7 linked regions of the Homo sapiens genome follow. The protein of the gene in region 1 interacts with the protein of each later gene in a pairwise test. Each region holds a gene or a part of one and is shown on either strand. Other genes may lie near its edges. The genes, in order: MEP1B, TM4SF20, CPNE3, C11orf24, TM4SF5, FAM3B and SLC35A3.

Region 1 (3,433 bases):
CATGGGACACTGAGAACTAAACTTTCTCTGTTATCTGTGCTATCGGCCTTTCCTAACTTGGAGATACTGTTTTAGTATCAGATTAGGAGGAATTCCATTTTTTCTTTCCATTGTTTATACCTGTGCTCTAGGTGCTAGTCTCTCTCCAGTCCAGAGTGGGTAAAATAGTTTCATATAGCAATGACCTATTGGTGATCAAATAGACTAAAGGTGATCCACATCTTTAACTGTGAAGATTTCTGGAGTTAGATATCAACTAATAACTCTGAGTCATGCTCTCAACATGCAGGTGCCAGTCAGGGGAAGACTGGTGGTACATGGGAGAAAGGTGTGAAAAGAGAGGCTCCACCCGAGACACCATAGTCATTGCTGTTTCATCTACTGTTGCTGTGTTTGCCTTGATGCTGATCATCACCCTTGTCAGTGTCTATTGCACCAGGAAGAAATATCGTGAAAGGATGAGCTCAAATCGACCAAATTTGACTCCGCAAAATGTAAGTTGAGGCTGATGTTTGATTATTCATAACCTATTGGTGAAATCTTATGGAGAGGAACTAGGACATTTTTTATATACTTTGGTTCTTGCCTTCTTCTCTCTGTTTCCTATGCTGGGACAACTGATTTCAGATTATAAAAGTTCCTATTACTTTCACTGTAAATCAACGATTCTTAAACTGGGATTTATGGAGGTTCATTATCCTCCTGGAATTGTATACAACATTGTGTACAGTTGTGTGTGTGGGTTTTTTTCCTGGAGTGTGGGGTGGTCTGTGACCTGAAAGGCACAACTGATTTTGCCTGAAAGTTCAAACCTTCCTGGTAAAGGGAAGAGGTGGCCTGCAAGTGTTTTTGTTCTAAAGGTCTTGTAGTGGTGGTGAGCTGAGGCCATAGGAAGGGGATGCAGGCATGTTTGGGGAAGCTTTTTCATTAAAGAAGGTTCCAGTTCATTCTGGCTTCATGTGGAATAACTAATTCTAAGGCAAGTTTTCAAGTAAAGGATTTAAAGTCTTGCCTCAAAAAATCTCTAGAATGCTAATAGACTCCTGAAACGATCCTGTTTCCAGTGGGTCCCTTGGGAAGCTGACTCTGAGATGGATATTTGTACGCAGGAGGTTTATTGGGGAGGGCTCCTGGAACACGTATAATAGGCTGAGGGAGCTGGCCTGGGCAGAGGGTGAGGTTGGAATGTGATGTGGTTGCAGCTGAGGCCTCAGCCCATCCTTCAGGGAGCTCTGGAGTGGGGATGACTCCCTCTTAGGCACGTCCTGAATCGAGGGAGGGGGCCAGGCCTTTGTACTCCCATCACTGGAAGGGGGCTGCCCTCAAAGAGGGGGCATAAAATTGGGCAAGGCAACGGCCTTTGGGGGAGGGCATTTCTTGCATAACAGCCTTCATTCAAAGGGCAGGACAAAGCAGCAGTTCCCTAGCATCCACTACATACTCCAGCAGTAGAGTACAGAGTTTTACATGCAGATTCATATTCCTCTCAAAGAAGCACAGAGAAAGTGGCATAAAATCTGAGCATTACTTAAAAGTGAAGCCCTAAAATTCTTCCATTTCTATTTCATTCCAATTGGAGTCTCTGAAAATTGCTACTGAAGCCAGTCAGAAAAAATGCCCAATTAGAATATCTCCAAAAATAAAAATACTGCAATTGGCTAAAGCAAGAGTACATTTTCTTAAGAAAAACGATTATTCAAGACATACTATATTTAAAGCTACGAGTTTTTAAAGGGGACAGCCTGGTATCAAGTCAGTCAAAACATGAACAATGATAATGAACTGAAAGCAAATCGTTGTATTATCGTAGGCTGTTGTCCTATTTCCTCAACATCAGGAAGATGTTTAATGCTAATAATAAGGCAATAGATCAATTACTTCACAAAATTATTAGAAAAGTATTTAAAATATAAACAGGTTGTTTTGTTTTAAGACAACTTTCAGCTTATTTTATGACTCAAAATAAAAGGGGAAGATCAGTGAATACTTGGCCTGGTAGGTCAACCTGATGGCAGCTGTGCCTGCAAGTTCGGTCTCCTGGGCCATTGGGATGAGCCAGGAGTTGGTGCATGGAAGGTGGAAGAGTAGAAGGGCAGGAGGGGACAAGTTAACTGGGTGGATGGGATTGCCAGGATATTTCCCTGACAATGAATGGGTAGTGTAACAGCTGTTATAAGCAAGTATAAACTTGCTTAGCAAGTAAAAACTGGAAGGAGTTAAAGAAAAATGACAAAACCAAAGAGAAGAGAAAGAAGGAAGCTAGGAAGCTAAGTCAATAAAGCAGGGAAACCATGACAGTATTAGAGACATGGTAAGGATAGTAAGTGGAAACACACATGCACACACACACACACACACACTCCATAATATTACAACAGAGCTGTTTTGTTTCTGGGTCATTTAAACACATTCCTAAGGACAAGGCAGTTGACTTACATTATCTTAGGCTAGGCATTTCTACAGCTAATTCACTGGTAACAGATCTCCCAGATGTCGTTTAGATCTTAAATCAGAATGACCTTTTTTTCTGAGGCGAATGTATGTGTTCACCCTAATGTTTTAGCATCTGAATAATGTGGGCCCGAAAAGCCAGGGCTCGAAATGGAGACCAGGAGCAGGAGCCATTGCCAGCTAGGAGGGAGGCCAGGAGACTGCTGATGGGGACTTCATTTAAAGACCAGATCATTTTATTATGATTCATTTAAATAGCAGTTTTTAAATTTAGAAATTAAATCATCAATTGTTCTTTCCCCTTTTAGCAGCATGCTTTTTGAAGATTAACTCGACAATATGGCCAGCTAATGAAATTAAAAAGGATTCTTCATCATGGATTTCGCCTAAGTGATATTACAGCCACCTCATTCTTCTAAAAGTGGATATTTTTCTGTAAATAGCTGGAAATATTATAAATCACTATTTTGGTCAAAGTCAAATTGGTGAAATGCTGTTTGTGTTTCCTTCTTTTAAATGAGAGAAAAGCAATTCAGGCTCTTCTGGAAGTATAATATTGTCTAGAAAAAAGGGAGAGCAACAGTTAGAGATGGCTTTTCAAATTACTGATCCTTCCATATGGGGGCCAAGTGTGGTGTCCTCACAAGTGATTCCTTAGAAACCCACTAGAAACACCCAATGGGAATGATCATCCATGCAGAATCACAGCAGTTTCAGTGCCATCCTTTCCCAGCATTGGGAAGGGTAATGAGACAGCTCCCCACTCTCTGTCAATATACATTCTTCTCCAAAACTGGCTACTCTTGTTTTCTTATATAATCCCTTTGGTACATGAGCTTGGTTTAGAATTTGTTTGAGCATACGACTGTAATCAGCAAGAAAACCTTTCACTCTTTGAGTGGCAAGTCTCCAAGTTTTGGATCTCAGGAATCTTTACACTTTAAAAATTACTGAGGATCTCAAATAGGTTACTGAGGATCTC
Region 2 (3,500 bases), on another chromosome or scaffold:
CTTGAGCCCTGGGTGTTGAGGCTGCAGTGAACCGTGATCATGCCACCGCACTTCAGCCTGGGTGACAGAGTGAGACCCTGTCTCAAAAAAACAAAACAAAACAAAAAACTATGTGGGCTCTGCACCCCAAATGACTAGCTTTTTTTGTTGTTGTTGTTTGTTTTTTTGAGATAGAGTCTCGCTCTGTCGCCAGGCCGGAGTGCAGTCACATGATCTCAGCTAACTGCAACCTCTGTCTCCCAGGTTCAAGTAATTCTGCCTCAGCTTCCTGAGTAGCTGGGGCTACAGGTGTGCACCACCTCGCCCAGCTAATTTTTGTATTTTTAGTAGAGACGGGGTTTCCTCATGTTGGCCAGGCTGGTCTCGATCTCCTGACCTCGTGATCCACCCACCTCGGCCTCCTAAAGTGCTGGGATTACAGACATGAGCCACCGCGCCCAGCCAAATGACTAGTTTTGAATCCCAACCCTTCTACCAAGAAAGTAGAAGGACAATTTGAGTAATTTGTCCTTTCTATGCCTCAGTTTTCTCATTGGTAAAATGGGAATAATAATAGCACCTACCTCATAGGATTATTATGAGGATGGAATAAACTAAGGCGTGTAAAGTGCCTGTAACAGAGTCTGGCATTCGCCAGAGCTCGGGAAAATGTTAGAGAATGAGAGTAGAAGGAGAGAGAAAAACCACTCAAGGGCAGCTGTGCTGAGATGGCAAAAAAACCTACGCCTAAAATTTCTCAAGCGGAAGGAAATAATTACATTCCACCCTTCAATGATACAAAACTCCTTCCAGTAAGAATTTCTAGTCGTAGCTGCTGCCTAGATATACTAAAAATTGAAACCCAAGTCCTGAGAATATGGTGTTCTTTCTTACAGCTTTCCTTGGCAACGTGTATTTCCCTGAAGGCAGAATGCGATCTATAGATTTCTGAGCATCAATATATAAAGTGAGATCATTACATATCATGGATATAGGAAGAGAAAGGAGAACGTGGAACCAAAAATAATTCTCAAATATAAGTTTGGGGAAACCAGCAAGATAGCCGGGATCCTGGGAAAAGAAAGGCTAGTGGGAGTGGGTGGTGACAGAATGATTTGTTCCCAACTGCCAGGCAAACAAAACCATCAATTTCTTTTCTGCAGGTTTGCCAGAATAATCCATACAATTTCTGGGAAATCGGGCCAGGCGTAATGGCTCACATCTTTAGTTTTCTTGGCAGGAGGTTTTCTTGAGGCCAGGAGTTCAGGACCAGTCTGGGCAACAGAGTGAGATCTTGCTTCTACAAAAATATTTTTAAAATTAGCCAGGTGTGGTGGTCTACACCTGTGGTCCTAGCTACTCAGGAGGCTAAGGCAGGAGGATTATTTGAGCCCAGGAGTTCAAGGCTACAGTGAGCTATGCTCGTATCACTGCACTCTGGCCTGGGTAAGAGAGTGAGACCCCTACTCTTTAAACAAACAAACAACAGAGTTTGGATGATGCAGCCAATTCTTTCAGAAACATTTCTTCCAAAAATAATGTATAAATAAGTCATCCTAATCTATTTAAAATCCAATTCTCTGCAGATGACTCAGAGTGAACTAAGAATGTAGATAGAAGACTTCAAAACTCCTGTCTTGAATTCCCCTGTTCCCGCCGCCACTTTTAATCTTTCTGGTTGAAACTGGGATGACAAGGTTCACAAAACCACGGATATTGCCAAATTCCCTTTTTGTTCTTTGAGCCTTGATTTCCCACAACTGGTGGTAAACGGAAGGTGAAGATTACTATTTTTTCTTCTGATGAGAAGTTATAATACTCATCTTTCCTGTTGATGTCATTTCCAGGCCATTCCAGCAACAACAATGTCCTTGACAGCAAGAAAAAGAGCGTGCTGCAACAACAGAACTGGAGTAAGTATGAAGCAGTCGGCGTGGAAGCAGAAGTGCATGAACAGTTATTGCTACCTAAGCAAAGCCACACTGAGTCACTCGCATCTACCGAATCACAGTGGGGCTCCACTGACAGAGCCACAGCCTTAGAAACATGCTATTTTTATTTATTTATTTAGAGACAGGGTCTTGCTCTGTTGCTGAGACTGGAGTGCAGTGGTGCGATCTCGGTTCACTGAAACTTCTGCCTCCCGGGATCAAGCAATTCTCCTGCCTCAGCCTCCTGAATAGCTGGGACTACAGGTGCACACCATCACGCCCAGCTAATTTTTGTATTTTTAGTAGAGATGGGGGTTTCAACATGTTGGTCAGGCTGGTCTCAAACTCCTGACCTCGAGTGATCTGCTCGCCTCGGCCTCCCAAAGTGCTGGGATTACAGGTTTGAGCCACTGCGCCTGGCCTGAAACATGCTATTTAGGATGATTATATAGAAGTAGAAAAAGTGAGACGGGTTTTTTTGTCCCACAAACATTTAGAGTTGGCCTTCTGTCCCTTCCTCAGTCTTCCGTGGATTGTCCTTTCCTCAATCTAAAGGTTTTCAAAGAAAGGAGATTGGTAAGTCACGCCCACAGCTGCAATCAATTTCATAATACTCGGGTGTGATATTTTTGTGGCGTATATAAAATACTCAGGGAAAATGTACTCAGTTCTCTCATGCAATGACAGACTGGTTTGCTAGGATTAGAATGACAATTGCCTTTATCCAGTTAAATTAAAGGAGCTGCCAGGTTTTTTTCCCCCAAAACATTTAATGCCTACCCACTATGTATAAAGTCGTAACGAAGTTAAAAGTAAATTAAGATTCATTAACCGGAGTGTCACTCTGCTCAGAACACTTTCAGAGATGCTGTTTCATTTAATTCTCTCAAAACCCTTAAGTGGGAAAAAGTAAGAAGTGTGTTTGATTGACGAAGGAATGGACGCTCAGAGAAAGTAAATAATTTGCCAGTGTAGCACACTAGTAAGTGGATTTTTATCCAAACCCACTGGAGCACCCCACAATTCATGATCTTTATACCATGAACATGGCTATTAAGCAACATAAGGACTCTCACAATTCCCTGTGGAAGGGGTAGATTGACAGCAAGCAGTCACAGTAAATCTGCTTGGCTGAGCTTGAGCTTTCAGAGCAATGGTTCTCAGATGGATGGGAACATTAGGCTGGGCACGGTGGCTCACAGCACTTTGGGAGGCTGAGGTGGGAGGATCACTTGAGGTCTAGAATTCAAGACCAGCCTGGCCAACATGGTGAAACCCCGTCTCTACTAAAAATACAAAAATTAGCTGGGCACGGTGGCCCATGCCTGTAATCCCAGATACTCAGAAGGTTGATGCAGGAGAATCTCTTGAACCCAGGAGGCAAAGGTTTCAGTGAGCCGAGATCACATCACTGCACTTCAGCCTGGGCAACAGATGAGTAAGACTCTCTCAAAAAAAAAAAAAAAAAAGACAGATGGGGATATTAGAATTATCTAAAGAGATTTAAAAAAATACCAGTGCCTGGGTGGCCGCCAGAGATTCTGCATCAGTATTTTTCAAAAGCACTCAAGATAATTTGGCCAGGGGTTA
Region 3 (3,500 bases), on another chromosome or scaffold:
AAATAATTTGGCAACTGCCAAGGACATAGATATGCTAAGAAATAGTTTTTATTTCTTAACATAAATAGTATTTAGTATTTATAAATAGTATTTAGTATTTAACATAAATAATATTTAGTATTTATAAACAGTATTTATAAAACATGTCATCTGGGCTTCAATCACTCATACAACTTATGCCTAATGAATAAGCCCCAAGGAAACCAGACTAAAGAAACAAGAGCCTTGCTGACATTCAGTCAGGAAGTAAGTAGCAAACTATATGTAATATAAAGCAAAGTACATGCCATATATGATAACTAATCACAGAAAGATATTAGAGATCTAAGGTAAACAGCAAGATTGCCACAAGGAGAAAAATAGAAGATAAGACGGGGGGATTTTAGGGAGAAAGCATCATCAACCTACCACCTATATCAGAGTGCTAGCCGATGAAACAAACTACCCTTTCTGGGGAATTGTGAAAACATGTATTTTAGTTTTTCCAAAGTCATACTCACGCATCATAATCTTGAATGACCAGTCCCACAGACCAGAGAGCAGTCAAATACTCATTAACGCCATTGGGGCTGATGTAATGAAGGGAGTCTGGAGACCTTGGGTCACCATTGGAGCCAGTGAAGTCCACTCCCACCTGCCAAATAACAATTGCAGCCCTTAGTAAGGAGAAGGCAGGGACACCTGTGCTTGATGTCCAGGAAAACTTCAAGAGATGGGATACAATCATGCATCCTGGCGCCTACTTCCTAACAAATGCCTACCACTATTTCCATAGACAATTAAACAAGTAAAGCCTAAATGTGAAACAACCTGATGCTTCTACTTTTCTAGATGGCTTAAATAATGAATTATTGTATCCATTACTTAAGCTTAAGGGTTGTCTTTTATAAGGTTGTCTCACTAATGCTTTCTAGTCCTTAAATTAGTTCAGGATAACCACTAGTTTGTAGGTTTGTATACATCTGCTTTCTCTCAGGAGGAAGAGATCTCATCAACAAAACTGAGAGCTTCATGATGAGCCCAGACAACCTGCCTGAGGACTCTAAGAGGACTATGCTAAACAGATTGTGAAAATTTCATTACAAAGTCAGTTTTGCAGTGAAAGAAAATATACTGCAACATGGAGGAAAAAGCCTATGCTGAAAAATTCAGTGTGTTACTTACAGTAAAATTCAGCTGACATCCTCCCATTATATAGTCAAGGAATGTGCATTCTACTGTAATCTAAAAATAAGAGAAAACTTAAAATTACAACTCTCCTACTATACAAGAGAAGCAAAAAACTCTTTGGCATATATTTTTAAAAGTCTGTAAATTGAACAGGACATGATATAAACATGGAAATTACCCCTGCATTCAGGTTTAAGATACCCCTTCCCCTATGTGCCATGAATCTGTAAAATTCTGCTTCAAGATAATTGTAGCAATGTTAAGATTAGAATACTAATGGCGAAAGATGAAATACACTCATTTTAAGTTTTAAGATATTAGTAATGAATCCAATATGTTGAGGGCTTTAAAAAGCATAGCAGTCAACATTTTAAAAAACAAAAACTCCATTCCACTTGTTCACCCTAAAAAATCTTGGCTTTTCCCCTTTACTCATAACATTTTATATTGAAAGTATGAAGAGGATAAATGCATTGGGTAAGGTCATTTCCACTAAAGAGCTGAGAAAATACTATGATGCTTTATATTTCCTAAGATAACGAAAAACTTATCCTTGTCCTTTGCAAATAAGTTGTCAAACCTTGGAAACAGGTTACTTGATTTTTTTGTTCTTCCCTACTTGATTCTTTTTGCTAAAGGTGACCAGATGCTCATGTGATTTTCAACTGCCTGAAATTCAAGTATTTGTTTAATATAAACATACTAACAGGAGAACTTGAAATATAATCTCATTATATTATAAGTAGCCAAGGCTTGGGTCGGATGCGGTGGCTCACACCTGTAATCCCAGCACTTTGGGAGGCCAAGGTGGGTGGATCACAAGGTCAGGAGTTCAAGACCAGCCTGGCCAACATGGTGAAACCCTGTCTCCACTAAAAATACAAAAATTAGCCAGGTGTAGTGGTGGGTGCCTGTAATCCCAGCTACCTGGGAGGCTGAGGCAGAGAATTGCTTGAACCCAGGAGGCAGAGGTTGCAGTGAGCCGAGATCACACCACTGCGCTCCAGCCTGGGCAACAGAGCGAGGCTCCAGCTCAAAAAGAATAAATAAATAAATAAAAATAAGTAGCCAAGGCCAACGGACCTCACACTGTTTCACACTGATAACACCTGAATTCTTGTAGCTTTTTTTCTTTTGCCTTTTTTTCTCATTTATGCATTCAAATTCAACCTGTAGGAAGAGAAGACAAAAATGTTACTTTTTATTAGCAATATTAGAAATGCCAATGTGACTTTAAATGAATGACTTTTTTTCCTTTAGAATCAAACTACCTACTGATGTAGGTCTGTTGCAAAATATAACTCTGAAACAATTACATAATATGTTAAGTATGTGGAATATTTATCAGGTAAATTTCCAACAATTAAGGCACTCCTAAAATTGCATACCTTTCAAAATATTTCTCCCAAATAAATTTTACCTCTGCAGGTAATTTCCTTGCAAATGTTCCAAGGCATAATCTTTTTTCTCTTTGCTGCATATTTTACCATAGAGTTGGGCCCTATGATATAACATGGTATAATAAAGGAAATAAAATATTACTCCTAGCTGTTACCAACATAAAGAACGAAAATATGCTGCAAAGAAAAGAAAAAAAAATAACATCATAAAACAAATATATGAAGCCCAACTCTATGGTAAAATATGCATCAAAGATCTTCTCTTTCCACTGGGAATACATGTTAAAAATTGATCTAACACCTCCTCTTGTTTATATTTCCTTCCCCCAAAAGAATGATCTTCCTTCCCCTTCCTATCCCCCTATCCATCTTTAGGGCTTGGCTCAAGTTGTTCTCCTCTGTAACTTCCACTGCTACTCTAGTCTTCTCTGATCTCTATCTACCTCTTTAAATTTCTACAACTATATGAAATTTAGTTACATACTCTGTGTTATTTTCAAGTGTCTCATTTAATTTTTTCTTCACAGTGACATTATAATCACCTCCAACTTATACCTTCAAATTCTCACTGTCTTGCCTAATAATAATATAAGAGATATTCAATAAATGCTTGATAAGTCACCTCTTCTGGTTAACACAAAGCCACTTATGTACTTCAGACAGTCATTACTAGTTTTCCAAGAATCAAACACTAAAAAATACACGTGGTATAATACAATGATGTGAAACAAAATTATGTTAAACAAATTCTTTGATGGTTCAGGATCTTGCTGGAGTCTCAGTCACAATCATAAGTATTAATTGTTGAGTATTAGAAATTAAAGAAAGGAAAAACAATAAAAAATTATTATATATTAGAGCTAAAGAAATTCCACAAACCGAATTCTCATTGAAAAAGGGCTAGATTACTTCACTTATTCATTTATACCT
Region 4 (3,500 bases), on another chromosome or scaffold:
ATGTGCCTGGCCCAGCGGCCCTCTGGGTATATGGCATGGGGCTTGGCTGTGTCGTGGGGGACATGGCCTCCATCTCAGGGATTGGGCTGGTGTGAGGTACTGGCACTGGGCTGGCAGTTGGCTCCCTGGCTTGTGCCTTGGTGGTGGTCACCACTGTGGGGGTGGGGGCGGGCTCTGGGGTTGTGTTTGAGGGCATGGGTGTGGATTTATTTGTTGTGTTAACCACAGGCTGGTCCACTGACACCTGGCTAATGGGACCTTGTGCTTGGGGACGCATAGGGGGTACAGGGCTTGCCGCGGTGTCACTGGGCATGTGCTTGGAAGGACTTGGACGAGTGCTCATGGGGCTGCTTGTGTTTGCTGTGGTCGCTACAGTCTGAGCACGTGTGGCCAATGTGGCCAGGGTTGCTGTTCTTGGCAACGCGCTGCTCTTTGGCACTTGTGCGAGGGCTGTGCTGAGAGATGGATGCCCAGTGGCGGTAGTGGACGGGGTCCGCCCTGTGGAAGTGGACGTGGGCGCGGGGAGTGCAAGTGTCATGGGAGTGCTGGAGGCCGCAGTCATACTGGAGGCTGCAGTCGTGGGAGCAATGGAGGCCACAGTTGTACTGGAGGCTGCAGTCGTGGGAGCACTGGAGGCCACAGTCATACTGGAGGCCGCAGTCGTAATGGAGGCCGCAGTCGTACTGGAGGCCACAGCCGTGGGAGCAATGGAGGTCACACCATCAGCTGCACCTCCTGAAGTTGCTGGTTCACTCACATCTGTCCTGCTTGTGTCCTCTGTTGTGACTTCCATAGAGTTGAGGTGGGCTGCCGAAGTCCCTTTGGTCAATGTGACAGGAGAAGCTGCTGCCATGGTTACATCCTCAGACGTTTTATTATCAACTGTTTCCACAGATGCATTCCTCTTGACTAATCCCTTCCACATTTTGTTAGGGACAAAGTTGCCTTAAAGTCAGAAAAAGGAGAAAAAGAGAGACAATCATGTTCAATCCTGCACAGGGGGATTGCTCAGGGATCGGCTTCCACCCAGGCCTGTGGGGCCCCCTCCTCAGCCCAGCCAGAGTCGGGGGAGGTGATGTGCGAACATGCTTCCTCCCCATCTCTCTTCCCACTGTTGGCATGCAGCTCATTGAAAAAGCCCTTGTCAATTTGATTTTAAAACTCCTTTGCCCTCTATGAACCCCCTGCCCATTGAAGGCTTCAGACCTTCACTATTTGATCCAATTCCCAAAACATCAGAGTAAAAGTCTCACACAACAGGTGTGATTCACCATTAAAAGCCCACTGAACGCACACCCAGGTTTACAAAGCAGATAAACTGCACAGGTATTCACATCATAAAAGAACGCTTGGCTTTGTGAAAGGATTCACTGCAGGAATTCTTGGAAATGAATGGCACAGAGTGGGAACGCAGTTAAAGATCTGATGTATGAAGGAATCAATTCCCCAGTGAAGATTCAATTTAGAGATGACATCAAATCTTGCAGGCCAAGCGAGCAAACCTTTCAGGGCTCAGCTGCCTGGTCCTGCTAGGGGCTCTTTGCCCACCATGGCCCTGGAGAAGGAAGGTTGGCCTGACAACCCTTCCCTGTGCGGCACCTGGGAGGGCTGCGGTTCCTGACGCGTTGGCCTGGGTTTGCAGATGCTGCTTTCAAGGGCTCAGCATGCTTTGTGGCCACCGTGGGCCCATCCAGCAGTCACACAGCTTTCTCACTTACGTGGATCGTTGGATGCCGCATGGCTTTCAGATAAGGACAAGGAGAAAATCCAAATGAGCACAAGAGCTGTCCACATCTTGTGGGTGAGCTGGGAGCAAGGCTGGGCGGTCCCCGAGGCTCCCAGCCAGCCAGCTCCTCAGGCTGCTAATGGTTCCCTCCTGCTTGGCCAAGGGATCTGTGGTCAAGAAAGCACGCTGGTCAGAAGGCGTCTGGCCAGCAACACACAGCCTTGCCTGAGAGCACCTGCTGTGGAGGGCTCTGGCAGGGTCCAAGGTGCAGACTGAGCCAAGTGCTGAGACCAGGGCCTGGTGCCCAGGAAGACCTCAGCCATGGTATAGTAATGAACTGCCCTGTGCTTTGCATCTGATCACTTCTTGACCCGATTTCACTATGAATCTCAACCTGCAAAAGTTCCCATTCTCCCATCCTAGAGTTCAGAGTTTAAAGGAGCAGGAGAGAGGGCTAAGACTTGGTTGTGTTCATAGGGTGAAGGCCTTCTCATCACCAAGACTGGTCAAGTCTTCCTCCTCAGCTTCCCCCATAGTCTGCAGAGTACAAATCAAGCCTAATGCACCCCATGTGCACCCTGTGACAGGTGACTGTGCCTTTCACATGGGAGATACTACTTAACCATTCATCCATCAATCCACCCATTCATCCATCCACCTGCCCGCCCACCCATCCATCCACCCACTATTCTATCCATCTACTCATCTGTCCATCCATCCATCCACTCACCCATCCATCCATCCACTTACCCACTTACCCATCTATCCATCCATCCATCCATCCACCCACCCATCCATCCACCCACTCATCCATCCACCCACTCATCCATCCATCCATCCATCCATCCATCCATCCACCCACTATTCTATCCATCTACTCACCTGTCCATCCATAAGTCCATCCATCCATCCATCCATCCATCCACCCATCCATCCACCCACTCATCCATCCATCCACCCACCATATCCTATCCATCTGTTCATCTATCCATCCATCCACCCACCCACCCATCCATGCACCCAGCCATCCTTTCATCCAATATTTACTTAGTGCTTTCTCATGTGCCAGGCAGTACACTTAGGACAAAAAGGTGAAAAACACACAAGCTCTTCAGGGACCTGCAGTCCATGGGAGACACAGAAAAGAGGTCATTGCAGGCTGGCACAAGCATTGTGCAGGGTGTGACTCAGTGCTGGGAAGCAAGGAGGAGACAGTATGCGGGCAGGCCTTGAAGAGTGAGGTAGGCTGATACTCTGGGCAGAAGCCCCAAGGGTGGCTGGGCCCCAGAGGACAGGGTGCCACAGGGGCCCAGAGGACACAGTTCAGCCAGTGGTGGTGTGGTCGGCATGCCAAGGAAGGCTTCCTGGGAAAGCGATGCCTGGGCCGCATTCTGAAAGCTGGGTGGGGGTGGGCAGGCAGGTGGAGAGGGAGCAGCAGATGACAACAGCAGGGTCAGAGGCAAGGAAGAGCGTGGTGAGGCGGGAATTAGTCTGGAGAGCGTGAGGAGGCCCCATGAGCCATGTGGCAGTTTAGATTTCACAGTAGGGGGATGCGAGTCCCTCCGGGGCCTTAGACAAGAACAGAAAGGTGCTTTTAGCAAGAGGGGAGGCAGGGGCAGCCAGTGAGGGGCAGCGATCCAGGCACCTGATACAGAGGCTCTCTCAATGAATGAAGGCATGAGTGAATGAGTGACTGACCCACTTCAGAGACTGCAGTGGTCCCCACAGCCGGCCCAAGTTGCTGTAAAGCAAAGCCCTCTCCTTCATTCTAATG
Region 5 (4,284 bases), on another chromosome or scaffold:
GGCAACAAAGGGAGACCCTGGTCTCAAAAACATTTTTTTAATTAAAAAAAAAAGAAGTCGACTGGGTGGCTTGGCTCATGCTTGTAATCCCAGCACTTTGGGAGGCTGAGGCAGGTGGATCATTTGAGGTGAGGAGTTTGAGACCAGCCTGGCCAACATGGTGAAACCCCGTCTCTACTAAAAATACAAAAATTAGCTGGGTGTGGTGGTGGGCGCCTGTAATCCCAGCTACTTGGGAGGCTGAGGCAGGAGAATCGCTTGAACCCAGGAGGCGGAGGTTGCAGTGAGCCAAGATCACGCCACTGCTCTCCAGCCTGGGCGGCAGAGTGAGACTCCGTCTCAAAAAAAAAAGAAGTTATCAAGGAAACTGCAGCACCCCAACAAAAACAGAACTTCTTTGACCTCAGAATGGAAAAATGGCAGAAGCTGATTCTCACAGAGTTGGCTCAGATCGCATGGCTGTTGCTAAATCAAACACCGAGGCTAGCAGGATAGAACGCTCTCATCAATGAGGCCTAGGTCCCGAGCCCACCCTGAGAGACAGGCAGTGGCCTCAAGAGGAGGAGACATCAATAATCAAATACCAGGAAGACGAAATGCAAGGACAATAAGAGCCCACAATCACCTCTTTAATTTCTCCCTGGGAAGAATGCTGCCTGAGAGGCTGGCAGAAACGAAGAGGCCACCACACATCTGCTCTGTGCTTCCTAGTTTACAAAATACTTCTCAGGTTGTCCCATTTAATCCTCACAAGTAGCCCACAAGGCAAGTGGCATCACTTATTTATTTATCTATTTATTTATTTATTTATTTATTTACTTTTTGAGACAGAGTTTCATTCTTGTCACTTTATTTACTTATTTATTTATTTTTCGAGACAGAGTTTCACTCTTGTCACCCAGGCTGGAGTGCAATGGCACAATCTCAGCTCACTGCAACCTCCACCTTCCAGGTTCAAGTGATCCTCCTGCTTCAGCCTCTCGAATAGCTGGGATTACAGGTGCCCGCCACCATGCACAGATAACTTTTGCATTTTTAGTAGTGACGGGGTTTCACCACGTTGGCCAGGCTGGTCTCAAACTCCTGACCTCAGGTGATCCACCCTCCTCGGCCTCCCAAAGTGCTGGGATTACAGGTGTGAGCCACCGTGCCCAGACACAAGTGGCAACTGAGACTTAAGAGACATGAAGGGGCTTGGCTAAGTTGCAAAGCAGGTATGGAACCAACAGAGGGGCTGTGGAGCTGTGCAGAAAAAACAGGAAGGCACTAACCCAGGGTAATGTGTCCATAGCCCCCACCTTGTCCAGCACCACATCCTCCCTTCACCTCAGGGCTGCAGCTCCTCCGCCTCTGCCTCCTCAGGGCCCACATCCTGTGCCTCTCTCCCTTATCATTCTGATCCTGCCAGTTTCTGCCACGCCTCTGTCTGAACTTTGCTCCGTGCTCCAGGCTTGTTTTCCTCTGGACCTGGGAACCACTGGCTTACTTTCACTCACCGCCTGTCCTTCCTGACACCTCACCATGTGTACGGGAAAATGTGCCCGCTGTGTGGGGCTCTCCCTCATTACCCTCTGCCTCGTCTGCATTGTGGCCAACGCCCTCCTGCTGGTACCTAATGGGGAGACCTCCTGGACCAACACCAACCATCTCAGCTTGCAAGTCTGGCTCATGGGCGGCTTCATTGGCGGGGGCCTAATGGTGAGAAGGCTGGCAGGGGAGCCCGGGCCAGCTGGCTGGGTGCCACCTAAGGGGTTCTGAACAGGAGGGAGAGGGAGAGAGGAATAAGAATGGTTGCTTGGGAGAGGATGGCAATGGCTTCGTGGGGGCTAGCAGCCCTCTGGAGTCAGTCCTGGAGGAGCCCCAGGGTCCCAAGCTGAATGTCTGTGGGGCACAGAAAGGACGAGAGCCTCACTGCTCTAAAGAGCTCCCCTACCGGGTAGGGAGCATGTCCTGCCTGTCCTCCCTGTCCCCACTGTTGAGCAGATGCTGGGAAAACCTCACTACAATGGTCGAGGCAGAAGGAGCAGCTGGTTGTCAGAGACGTCATCGGGGCAGGATAATAACAGGCATGAGGGTGGGGCGCAGTGAAATTACCCAGAGCCAGGGACTGCCCTCACGGATCAGTCACCCTCGCTTGCCTCCACGTCCATTCACTCTCACCCCACATTTCTGGAAGCCCAATCTGTGCGGACTGCTAAGGATAAACTCAGAACTTAGGTCAGTATGGCAGGGAGGATGCCCTCAAGTCGTCTTCCGGGAGATGAGAATCTATTTGCCAGGGGCGGAGGTGGGGGTTGGTTTTTGTGTTTGTTTTTTGTTTTTTTTTTTTTTTGAGACAGGGTCTCTCTCTGTTGCCCAGGCTGGAGTGTGGTGGTGCGAACATGGCTCACTGTAGCCCCAACCTCCTGGGCCCAAGCAGTCCTCCCACCTCAGCCTCCGAGCAGCTGGAACCACAGGTGGGCATCACCACACCCAGCTAACTTTTAAATATTTTATTTATTTTTATTATTATTATTTTTTTGAGACGGAGTCTCGCTCTGTCGCCCAGGCTGGAGTGCAGTGGCGCCATCTCCGTTCACTGCAACCTCTGTCTCCTGGGTTTAAGCAATTCTCCTGCCTCAGCCTCCTGAGTAGCTGGGATTACGGTCACGTGCCACCACACCCAGCTAATTTTTGCATTTTCAGTAGAGACAGGGTTTCGCCACGTTGGCTAGGCTGGTCTCGAACTCCTGACCTCAGGTGATCCGCCCCCCTCGGCCTCCCAAAGTGCTGGGATTACAGATGTGAGCCACCGCCCCAGCTTACATTTTTTGTAGAGACGGAGTATCTCTGTGTTGCCCAGACTGGTCTCAAACTCCTGGATTCAAGTGATCCTCCTGCCTCAGCCTCCCAAAGTGCTAGAATTATAGATGTGAGCCACCACGCCTGGCCAAGACTAGGATCTGTCAGAAGTGGAGGAAAAGGAGACACAGATTTCCCCAATTTACTAACCCCCATCTTCCAACTCTCCACCCATTCAGGGAAACTTTGGGATGGTCAACCTCGTTTAATATCTTCATGCGATAAAGACAAAAGATCTACCCAGCACAGTTCCCCACTTCTCAGGACAGTTGGCTAATGACATTCTCCAGGGGAGAGCTCCCCTTGGTCCCTTTTGCTGGTCACACCTCGCTGGTCACACCTCTATTTGCTAAAAGAGGATACCTCTCCTTTAACCAACAATCCCCTCTTACTCTCTAGTATCTTTTCTTCTACTCCCTCCTCCTGCATGGATTCTTGGCTGCTGTACTCTACTCTATCGCTCTAAACTCAACTCTCTTTGAGAGTCACACTCCTCTCAGGCTGACACACTTAGCCATTGTCACGGGGTGCTCCCTCTGCAACCTGAACCACCCCTGTCTCCCCACACTCCTCTGCCCCATCTAACCAGCTTGCTTCAGCGGAGCTCCCTGAGTCTGCCTTCCCCAAATATGCATTCACAGCTGCCTTCCCTCCACCTCTGTGCCCAGAGTCACTCTCAAGAAGCACCACCCGGTGGGCATGGTGGCTTACGCCTGTAATCCCAACACTTTGGGAGGCCGAGGCGGGCCAATCACCTGAGGTCAGGAGTTCAAGACCAGCCTGGCCAACATGGTGAAACCCCGTCTCTACTTAAAGAAATATACAAAAATTAGCCAGGCATAGTGGCGGGCGCCTGTAATCCCAGCTACTCGGGAGACTGAGGCAGGAGAACCCGGGAGGCAGAGGTTGCAGTGAGGCGAGATTGCGCCATTGTGCTCCAGCCTGGGCGACAGAGCAAGACTCCATCTCATACATAAATAAACAAATAAATAAGCACTGCTGTATATCACAGGGACACAGACAGGTTCCTGCTCTCCCTGAAGCTTGTGTTCCCTTTGGTAAGGCCACCAGTCTCACGGAAGCAAGGCTGGAAGTCCCACGAGAGCAAGCACTGCCTGCTTTGTTGGCCACTATGTACCCAGTGCTAGACCAGCACCTTGCACTAAACAGACACCCAATTAATAGTCATGGAATGGCAGCGTGTGCCTGTAGTCCTAGTTTGGGCCCAGAAATGAAAGATTGCAGTGAGCTATGACCACGCGCCACTGCACTCCAGCCTGGGCAACAGAGCAAGACCTTGTCTCAAGAAAATAAAAAATAAAAAAGTCATTGAATGAAGTATAGAACTAGGCAAGGCAATTTCAGATAGAAGTAGGTACCATCGGCCGGGCGCAGTGGCTCATGCCTGTAATCCCAGCACTTTGGGAGGCTGAGGCAGGCGGA
Region 6 (3,500 bases), on another chromosome or scaffold:
TGCAGCCAGACCTTGAACTGTGCTCTTTCCGCCCAGATCTTGGCTTCCTCCCCTGGGAAGCACAGGAGGGTCCAGGTTCTGAGATCCCGAATCATTTTAAGGTTTCTGTCGGACTGAAGAGCTGTTGGAAAATCTTCTGTAAAGTCTTGGGAAGCAAAAGCTAGTAATTGAGTAGATGTGAAAGAAAGGGCAGACATTGTATGTCGGTGAACACACGGCCTCAACCATCAGCTTAGGAAAGGCCCAGCTCTCTGTAGGGCGGCTGCTTTCTGTCCTTCCCCACAATCAAGGTGGGTTTTCTGAGAGCCTGCTGTGTGCTGGGCATGTCCAGGAGCTAAGGAGAGACGGAGGACAAGCCCACGAGGTCCCTGCCCCTTTGGCACTGATACCCTAGTGAGGGGAGGTGACAGCTTAACGCATGAACAAATGAGATTCGAGAGAGGATGGGTGGGGAAAGCCTCTGAGAAGGAGGTGACAATTGAGAAGCATCTCAGTGAAGCAAGGGAGTGGGCCATGCTGGGTTCTGAGGGCTGTGTGCCAGTTTGGGAGCATCATGACTTAGTCTACCCAGATTACTGTAAGAGAACACCATAGACTGGGGGCCTTATAAACAACGCATTTATTTCTGACAGTGTTGGAGGCTGGGAAGTTCAAGATCAAGGTACCCGCAGATTTCATGTCTGGTGGAGACCTGCATTCTGCTTCATGGATGGCTCCTTCTGGCAAACGAGGTCTCTGAAGCTCCTTTTATAAGGGCACTACTCCCATTCCTGAAGGCTTCATCTGCCAAAGGCCCCACCTCCTAACACCAGCACTCTGGGGATTAGGTTCCAACATATGAATTTCAGGGGGACACATTCAGTCCACAGCACATGAGTTGCAAACTGGGGGCCCAGAGACAGACCTGTCAGAGACAAGATTTGTCTAAAAGCAAAACACATAAAATATGGACAAGTATTTCAAAATCAAGAGATCTCCCATAAAACTCCATGTTAGAGCATCTCTTGAAACAGTAGAAGCTCTGATACCCCAGGCCCTCATTCCTGCAAGGCCATGATCAGCCACAGCTGGGCAGGCTGTGGTTACACAAGGGCGAGAGTATGGCCAGGACCAAAGGGATTCATCCAGTGGCCAGTAAAGTCACAGGAACAGGGAAGAAACAAGGAAAACGAGGTCCTTGTGCTTTATACATAGATTATCTGTAAGTCACACTGATCACTATGTTCTTTACTTCCTGGTTTCAATCTTATTTTACAATACACATTCTGGGACAGACTGAATTATCGCCGAAGGAAATGCCTACTGTGAAAGTCCATTTATTTATTAATTCAGCAGGTATATTTAGTAACAGCATCCCTCTCTGGGCCGTGGTCTGAGTGCACGTGTTTTAAGGTTCATCCTTTACTTCTAAGAACCTCAGAGTCTACTAGAGAAGAACTTAAAAGCCAAATCATAATGTTAGGAAACTGAACAAAGAAAATTAATGTGCAGCGTATGTTGAACAAAAATATGCATTTGGGGCCTGGCGCAGTGGCTCACACCTATAATCGCAGCACTTTGGGAGGCCGAGGCGGGCACATCACCTGAGGTCAAGAGTTCCAGACCAGCTTGGCCAACGTGGTGAAACCCTGTCTCTACTAAAAATACAAAAATTAGCTGGACATGGTTGCAGGTGCCTGTAATCCCAGCTACTCGGGAGGCTGAGGCAGGAGAATAGCTTGAACCCAGTAGGTGGAGGTTGCAGTCAGCCAAGATTGTGCCACTGCATTCCAGCCTGAGTGGCAGAGACTCCTTCTCAAAAACAAAAACAAAAAGAAAACAAAACAAAAAACATATATATGCATTTGGAATACAACTCCAATTGGGAAGGGGTGAAAGAAGCATTTGGGTGCCAAATGCACACCCAGCCATACTACCTTCACTGTACTCAGAGGCACCTAATAAATCATGAGCATTGATTAGCAGAGAAACACTCTTTGATGGCTTCTGGTCTTTGGTTTTTGCGGACTGGACTTTTAATCTCCTATAGAACAATGAGGTAGTTGAAATGGTCAAAATGCCATATGCAAACAGCCACCTTCTTTGTTTGCCTGGTCTATATTGTCAGGATCTTATTTCATGACTCAATATTTCTAGTGACTTTGCATGGATCTCCTACCCTCTGGAATAATCTTCCTCATTTATAGGAGTTAAAATGAGATCATAGTTCCCAAATCAGGAAGTATTTTTAAAAGACAGATTCCTGGACCCCACTCTGGGAAATTCAAAGCTCCCTAGGTCCAGGGTGGAAGCCAAGAACCTGTATTTATTTTAATTTGTTTTAAAACTTGGCTTCATACAGAGCCAAATTTGATCATCCTGGAACTAAACGGTCACTATGGTTTCTTTTAAATCTAAGGTTCTTTGTGATTTGTATCTAAATTTCATAAAACCTCCTCTCCACCCTTCCAAGTCCCAGTCTACATATTCCTGTGGTTACAGCATATCTGGGGAAAGCCACCAGGAGAGTCCGGACGCAAGGCTGTGCGAGCTCTATAGCTGGGTTCTCATTGCTGTCGCTACTTTCAGAGCTGGGTGAAGCAGCTATTGTATTATAAACCAGGAGCTGCTCGTGAGGATGAGGAACCAGGTGGATTTTCCTCAGCAAGAGAATAATTTCTCAGACTGAAACTGATAGCAGAAGGCTGACTGCATCCTAGGGAATGGTGTTGCTGCTGGAGGCTTTCAGTCTTAAACAAACCAGCTTTTCATGAGGCATAAGAAACAGGAGACTAAATAGAAGGTCCGCCGTTCTCCCTGGCTAGGACACTGGCTTCTACGTAAGCCACATGAACTTTACCTTTTGATTGTTTGGGGGAAGGAATTTCAGGAAAAGCACTGAAGACCTAGATGTGGTTCTCCAGGCAGGGTTTGGAAAGAGCTGTGTTTTCCCAGGAGCTGTGTCCACCCTCCAATCCCACACTGAGTTAGGAACATGGTCTTCTTTCTTCATTCACGTGGTGACACATTGTGCTTCTGGGAAACGGATGGGGGACTCAGAAAGCTACTGACTCTTTTTTTAAATGACACATGGGTTCCCTGCCCACTCCCAGGCCCTGTGAGGAAACACAAATGCCCATCTGTGTGTCACCCATAGTCACTAAAGCCACATACTCCCTGGAGGATATGAGGCACATCAAACACCTCCCTTCTGGAAAGCCCTCCTGCGCATGTCCACACGAAACAGGACTCTCACTTTGCAGAGCGCCAGGGGCTGCAAGTCTAGAAGCTGGGGAGGAGGCCATGCTCATGGCTGACGGGCTGCCAGGCCCTGGCGTGGGGACCTGCTCGTTCTGCTGCCGATCCCGTAGGGGAAGTCCCTGGGGAGAGCATCCCTATGGGACCCCCACAATGGCCCCGCTGGAGACGCCAGCACCAGCCCTTTGGGTGAGTGTCCTGGGTCCAAGGGTGGGAGTGCTGGGCAGGCCTGTGTAGTAGGCCTGTGTACCCTGAGCCCCAGC
Region 7 (3,500 bases), on another chromosome or scaffold:
TCTACTCCTGACCACAATGTTTGACAGTACACACATAGTATTGCCATTCAGGGAAGCTCACCTAAGCTTTGGTGTCCAGATTTTTATTGAGAGAGGCTCTATTAGTTGGCATGGTTGGTTGATTTTTTTGCCCATGTAGTTGTCCTCTCTTTCCAACATCTGCCCCTCCCTGGAGATCTGGTTGACATCAAGACTTCAGGGCCTCACCATAGGTTATCTCGTTAGCATAAACTGTCAAGTGTTGTCTAAGGAACCCACAATGAATAATAAAGACATTCCTATCAGTGAGAACTCCCAAAGACTTACACCAGAACTTTCTTTGGATGGGCCAAATTTCTTACTACACAAAGACCATTCATCTCTATACACTTCCTTCTGAATTGATGAGGATGATACAAGCAACGACAATTCTTCTTTTCAGAGACTTTTAATTTTTTTTTTTTTTTTTTTTTTGAGATGGAGTCTCGCTCTGTCACTCAGGCTGGAGTTCAGCGGCACGATCTCTGCTCACTGCAACCTCCGCCTCCTGGGTTTGAGCAATTCTCCTACCTCAGCCTCCCAAGTAGCTGGGATTACTGGTGCTCACCACCACGCCCAACTAATTTTTGTATTTTTGGTAGAGACGGGTTTTCACCATGTTGGCCAGGCTGGTCTCGAACTCCTGACCTCAGGTGATCTGCCGGCCTTGGCCTCCCAAAGTGCTGGGATTACAGGCATGAGCCATCACACCCAGCCCAGAGACTTTTAATTTATACATTGTCATTTTTAATTTTAGAATATCTGTCAAATGATTCTGAACATAACATGAATCTAGTGTGGAAAAATGTTTATAATCAGATATTGTGTTAAGAACATATATATATATATAGAGAGAGAGAGAGCATAGTATTGTCATTTAGTTTTCACTTCTTATGTTTAATGACAACTTTATAAATGCTGGACTATTTTAAACTACAAATTTAAAACATGGTTTATAAACCTTTTACCTGTACTGCATATTAATAAACAATTTTGAACTAATTTTAAATTAGGCATTCCTATCACCATTATAAGGAAGAGCTAAAACCTGATACCAGTTGTTATTTTGGCTCACAGTAGGGCTTCACTAGTGTTAGGATCACATTTTCCTCCCTTGGACCTGAGAATCAGGTGTTTTTCGTTTAATGCATTTATTTTCATTCATTCATTTAGGATTTCTAAAATGTTAGAGGTAATTTGTTTAAAACAAATAACATGGTGTTCTTTTGGAAATATACAGTTTATCTTAGATATACACTTTCCTCATTTTAAAGGTAGAACTCACTGCAGGTTTAAAAGAATAATGAATATTGTTACAGTGTTTAGTGATAATCACTGAAAATTCACGTTAAAATATACTTTAAGCTTGTCCAACGCGCGGCCTGCAGGCTGCATGCAGCCCAGGATGGCTTTGAATGTGGCTCAACACAAATTTGTAAACTTTCTTAAAACAGTATGAGATTTTTTTGCAATTTTTTAAAGCTCATCAGCTATTATTAGTTACTGTATTTTATATGTGGCCCAAGACAATTCTTCTTCTTTAAGGGTGACCCAGGGAAGCCAAAAGATTGGACACCCCAGCTTTAAATGTAGAGTATTTAAGAGGTTCAGTTAAATGTACTAAATCAGACTTGTGTGATTTAGACACAAAATCTGTGTGTGTGTGTGTTTGGTCTTTTAAAAGATACTGCATGTACAAACATGATTTCTAATAATTGAGGGTTTATTAAGTTTTTCCCTTTAGGCTAAAGTTTTATTTTATTCTGCTTGGATAGTAAATACAGCATTTTAAAATGATGATGCTAAGTGCTTTTTTAATATATGCATGCTGCTTCAATAGGTCTTTTAAATATAGCCAAGGCAGGGTAATATTTCCTGAGTGATGATAGAATTATAGAAAATCATGAAAGATGTGTGCCCATGTTTCATTTTATAACTGTTCCAGTCATATTGCTATGAATTCTAGAATTTTAAAACCTGCCACACTTATTTTGGATGTTATATACACATAATGCCTCAAATTTCCATTATTTCATATTATTTTTCTCCATTTCCCTCGTGTCAAGTTTCATTTTGTTTTCAATGTTTTGTTTTTATAATATTGCCATTTTAATGGCTTCAATCATGCTATGACAGATTGTGCCAATTTAGCTTTAAAAAACTCATGGGCTACCTCCATGAACTCACACATGCGGCATTGTTAAAGAACCTTTTTTAAAATTAAATTTTCTCCAGCTTTTCATTTTGCAGCATACAAAAAAATTGAAAAATTGGTATACCACCTAAATCCAACCATTATTAACATTTTGCCACACTAGCTTTATCTCTGTTGGGACACTTTACCCCTACATACTCCAGCATGCGTGACCTAAAGATATGGACATCTTCTTAATTAACCTCAGTGCCATTATGACACCTAAGAAAATTTAAATTAATTCAGGTCACTTCATCTAAGTTCAAATTCAAATACAATTGCCCCTCTGTAAACGTGGGGGATTGGTTCCAGGACCCCCACCTCGTGTATACCAAAATTTGGGCACACTCAAGTCCTTAAGGGGAAACCGCGTATAAGAAAAGTCAGCCCTCCCTATGGGTGGGTTTCACATCCTGCAAATAACTGTGTTTTCCATCTGCATTTGGCTGAAAAAAAATCTGCATATAAGTGGACCCATGCAGTTCAAATCTGTTGTTCAAGAGTCAACTGTATTCCCAGTTGTCTCAAAAATGATTTTTTATAGCTTTTTTGTTTTGGAACGAGGGTAAAATCAAGGTTAATGCTTTGTATTTGATTGTCTCCTTTGGTCTTGAAGTCCCCTTCCTGCACCACCACCTGCCCCTCAATGGCTTTTTTATACCAAGAGACTGAAAATGCTACCTCTAATGACTTTTCTCCCCATGATAGTACTCTTTGAAGGACCAAAGTTACTTTGCTCCTATTATGTGGTTTGATTTGTTCCCTTTATTCCTTTCATGTCCTTTGAACTGGAAGTCAAGTCTATAGGTTTGATTACCTTCAGGTTAAATGTATTGGGTAAAAATATTTCACAGATTTTATATTGTATCATATTAAAAGGCACAGATAATCTCATTATTAATGTTGGTAATTATTTGGTTAAGATGATGACTACCCCATTGTAAAGGTTATTGTAAAGTTCTCCCTGTGGTAAAGGTCATTTGTTCACCCTTAGTAATCTATGGAGTAATGTTTTAGCACCAGGAGAATATTCTGTTTCCCAATGCCTTTAGCATCAATTGATGATTCTTGACTGAATCATTTATTACACTGGGGTGCAAAATGGTGATAAATTTTTTTTAGTGCTCTAAATTTCTTCTACATTTATTAGTTTATATTCTTTTTTAAAATAAAAAAGTATATTTCCCTCCTGTTTCTCTAATATCCCTCTTTAAAAAAAAGACCATGTCTTCATGAATTTAAAAAAAATTACTCAATATATTATAGCCAATCGGTCACAGTTCTTTTT

What was found.
Region 2: the proteins of MEP1B (region 1) and TM4SF20 interact in a protein complementation assay, tested with the Homo sapiens proteins (one study listed by IntAct).
Region 3: the proteins of MEP1B (region 1) and CPNE3 interact in a protein complementation assay, tested with the Homo sapiens proteins (one study listed by IntAct).
Region 4: the proteins of MEP1B (region 1) and C11orf24 interact in a protein complementation assay, tested with the Homo sapiens proteins (one study listed by IntAct).
Region 5: the proteins of MEP1B (region 1) and TM4SF5 interact in a protein complementation assay, tested with the Homo sapiens proteins (one study listed by IntAct).
Region 6: the proteins of MEP1B (region 1) and FAM3B interact in a protein complementation assay, tested with the Homo sapiens proteins (one study listed by IntAct).
Region 7: the proteins of MEP1B (region 1) and SLC35A3 interact in a protein complementation assay, tested with the Homo sapiens proteins (one study listed by IntAct).

Annotation. Positions count from the first base shown.
Region 1 is NC_000018.10:32,217,472-32,220,904, forward strand, and holds the end of MEP1B (meprin A subunit beta isoform 1 precursor), read left to right. Parts: intron 1-289; coding exon 290-494; intron 495-2,759; coding exon 2,760-2,774; 3' UTR 2,775-2,933; downstream 2,934-3,433. UniProt on the Homo sapiens protein: Membrane metallopeptidase that sheds many membrane-bound proteins. Exhibits a strong preference for acidic amino acids at the P1' position. Known substrates include: FGF19, VGFA, IL1B, IL18, procollagen I and III, E-cadherin, KLK7, gastrin, ADAM10, tenascin-C.
Region 2 is NC_000002.12:227,369,307-227,372,806, reverse strand, and holds part of TM4SF20 (transmembrane 4 L6 family member 20), read left to right. Parts: intron 1-1,826; coding exon 1,827-1,892; intron 1,893-3,500. UniProt on the Homo sapiens protein: Polytopic transmembrane protein that inhibits regulated intramembrane proteolysis (RIP) of CREB3L1, inhibiting its activation and the induction of collagen synthesis.
Region 3 is NC_000008.11:86,545,435-86,548,934, reverse strand, and holds part of CPNE3 (copine-3), read right to left. Parts: intron 2,341-3,500; coding exon 2,254-2,340; intron 1,225-2,253; coding exon 1,165-1,224; intron 635-1,164; coding exon 501-634; intron 1-500. UniProt on the Homo sapiens protein: Calcium-dependent phospholipid-binding protein that plays a role in ERBB2-mediated tumor cell migration in response to growth factor heregulin stimulation.
Region 4 is NC_000011.10:68,261,974-68,265,473, forward strand, and holds part of C11orf24 (uncharacterized protein C11orf24 isoform 1 precursor), read right to left. Parts: intron 1,894-3,500; 5' UTR 1,795-1,893; coding exon 1,719-1,794; intron 1,711-1,718; exon of another isoform or gene 1,600-1,710; intron 946-1,599; coding exon 1-945.
Region 5 is NC_000017.11:4,770,402-4,774,685, forward strand, and holds the start of TM4SF5 (transmembrane 4 L6 family member 5), read left to right. Parts: upstream 1-1,484; 5' UTR 1,485-1,521; coding exon 1,522-1,698; intron 1,699-4,284. UniProt on the Homo sapiens protein: Acts as a lysosomal membrane arginine sensor.
Region 6 is NC_000021.9:41,323,301-41,326,800, forward strand, and holds part of FAM3B (protein FAM3B isoform a precursor), read left to right. Parts: intron 1-3,500. UniProt on the Homo sapiens protein: Induces apoptosis of alpha and beta cells in a dose- and time-dependent manner.
Region 7 is NC_000001.11:100,028,996-100,032,495, forward strand, and holds part of SLC35A3 (UDP-N-acetylglucosamine transporter), read left to right. Parts: 3' UTR 1-3,500. UniProt on the Homo sapiens protein: Transports diphosphate-N-acetylglucosamine (UDP-GlcNAc) from the cytosol into the lumen of the Golgi apparatus, functioning as an antiporter that exchanges UDP-N-acetyl-alpha-D-glucosamine for UMP.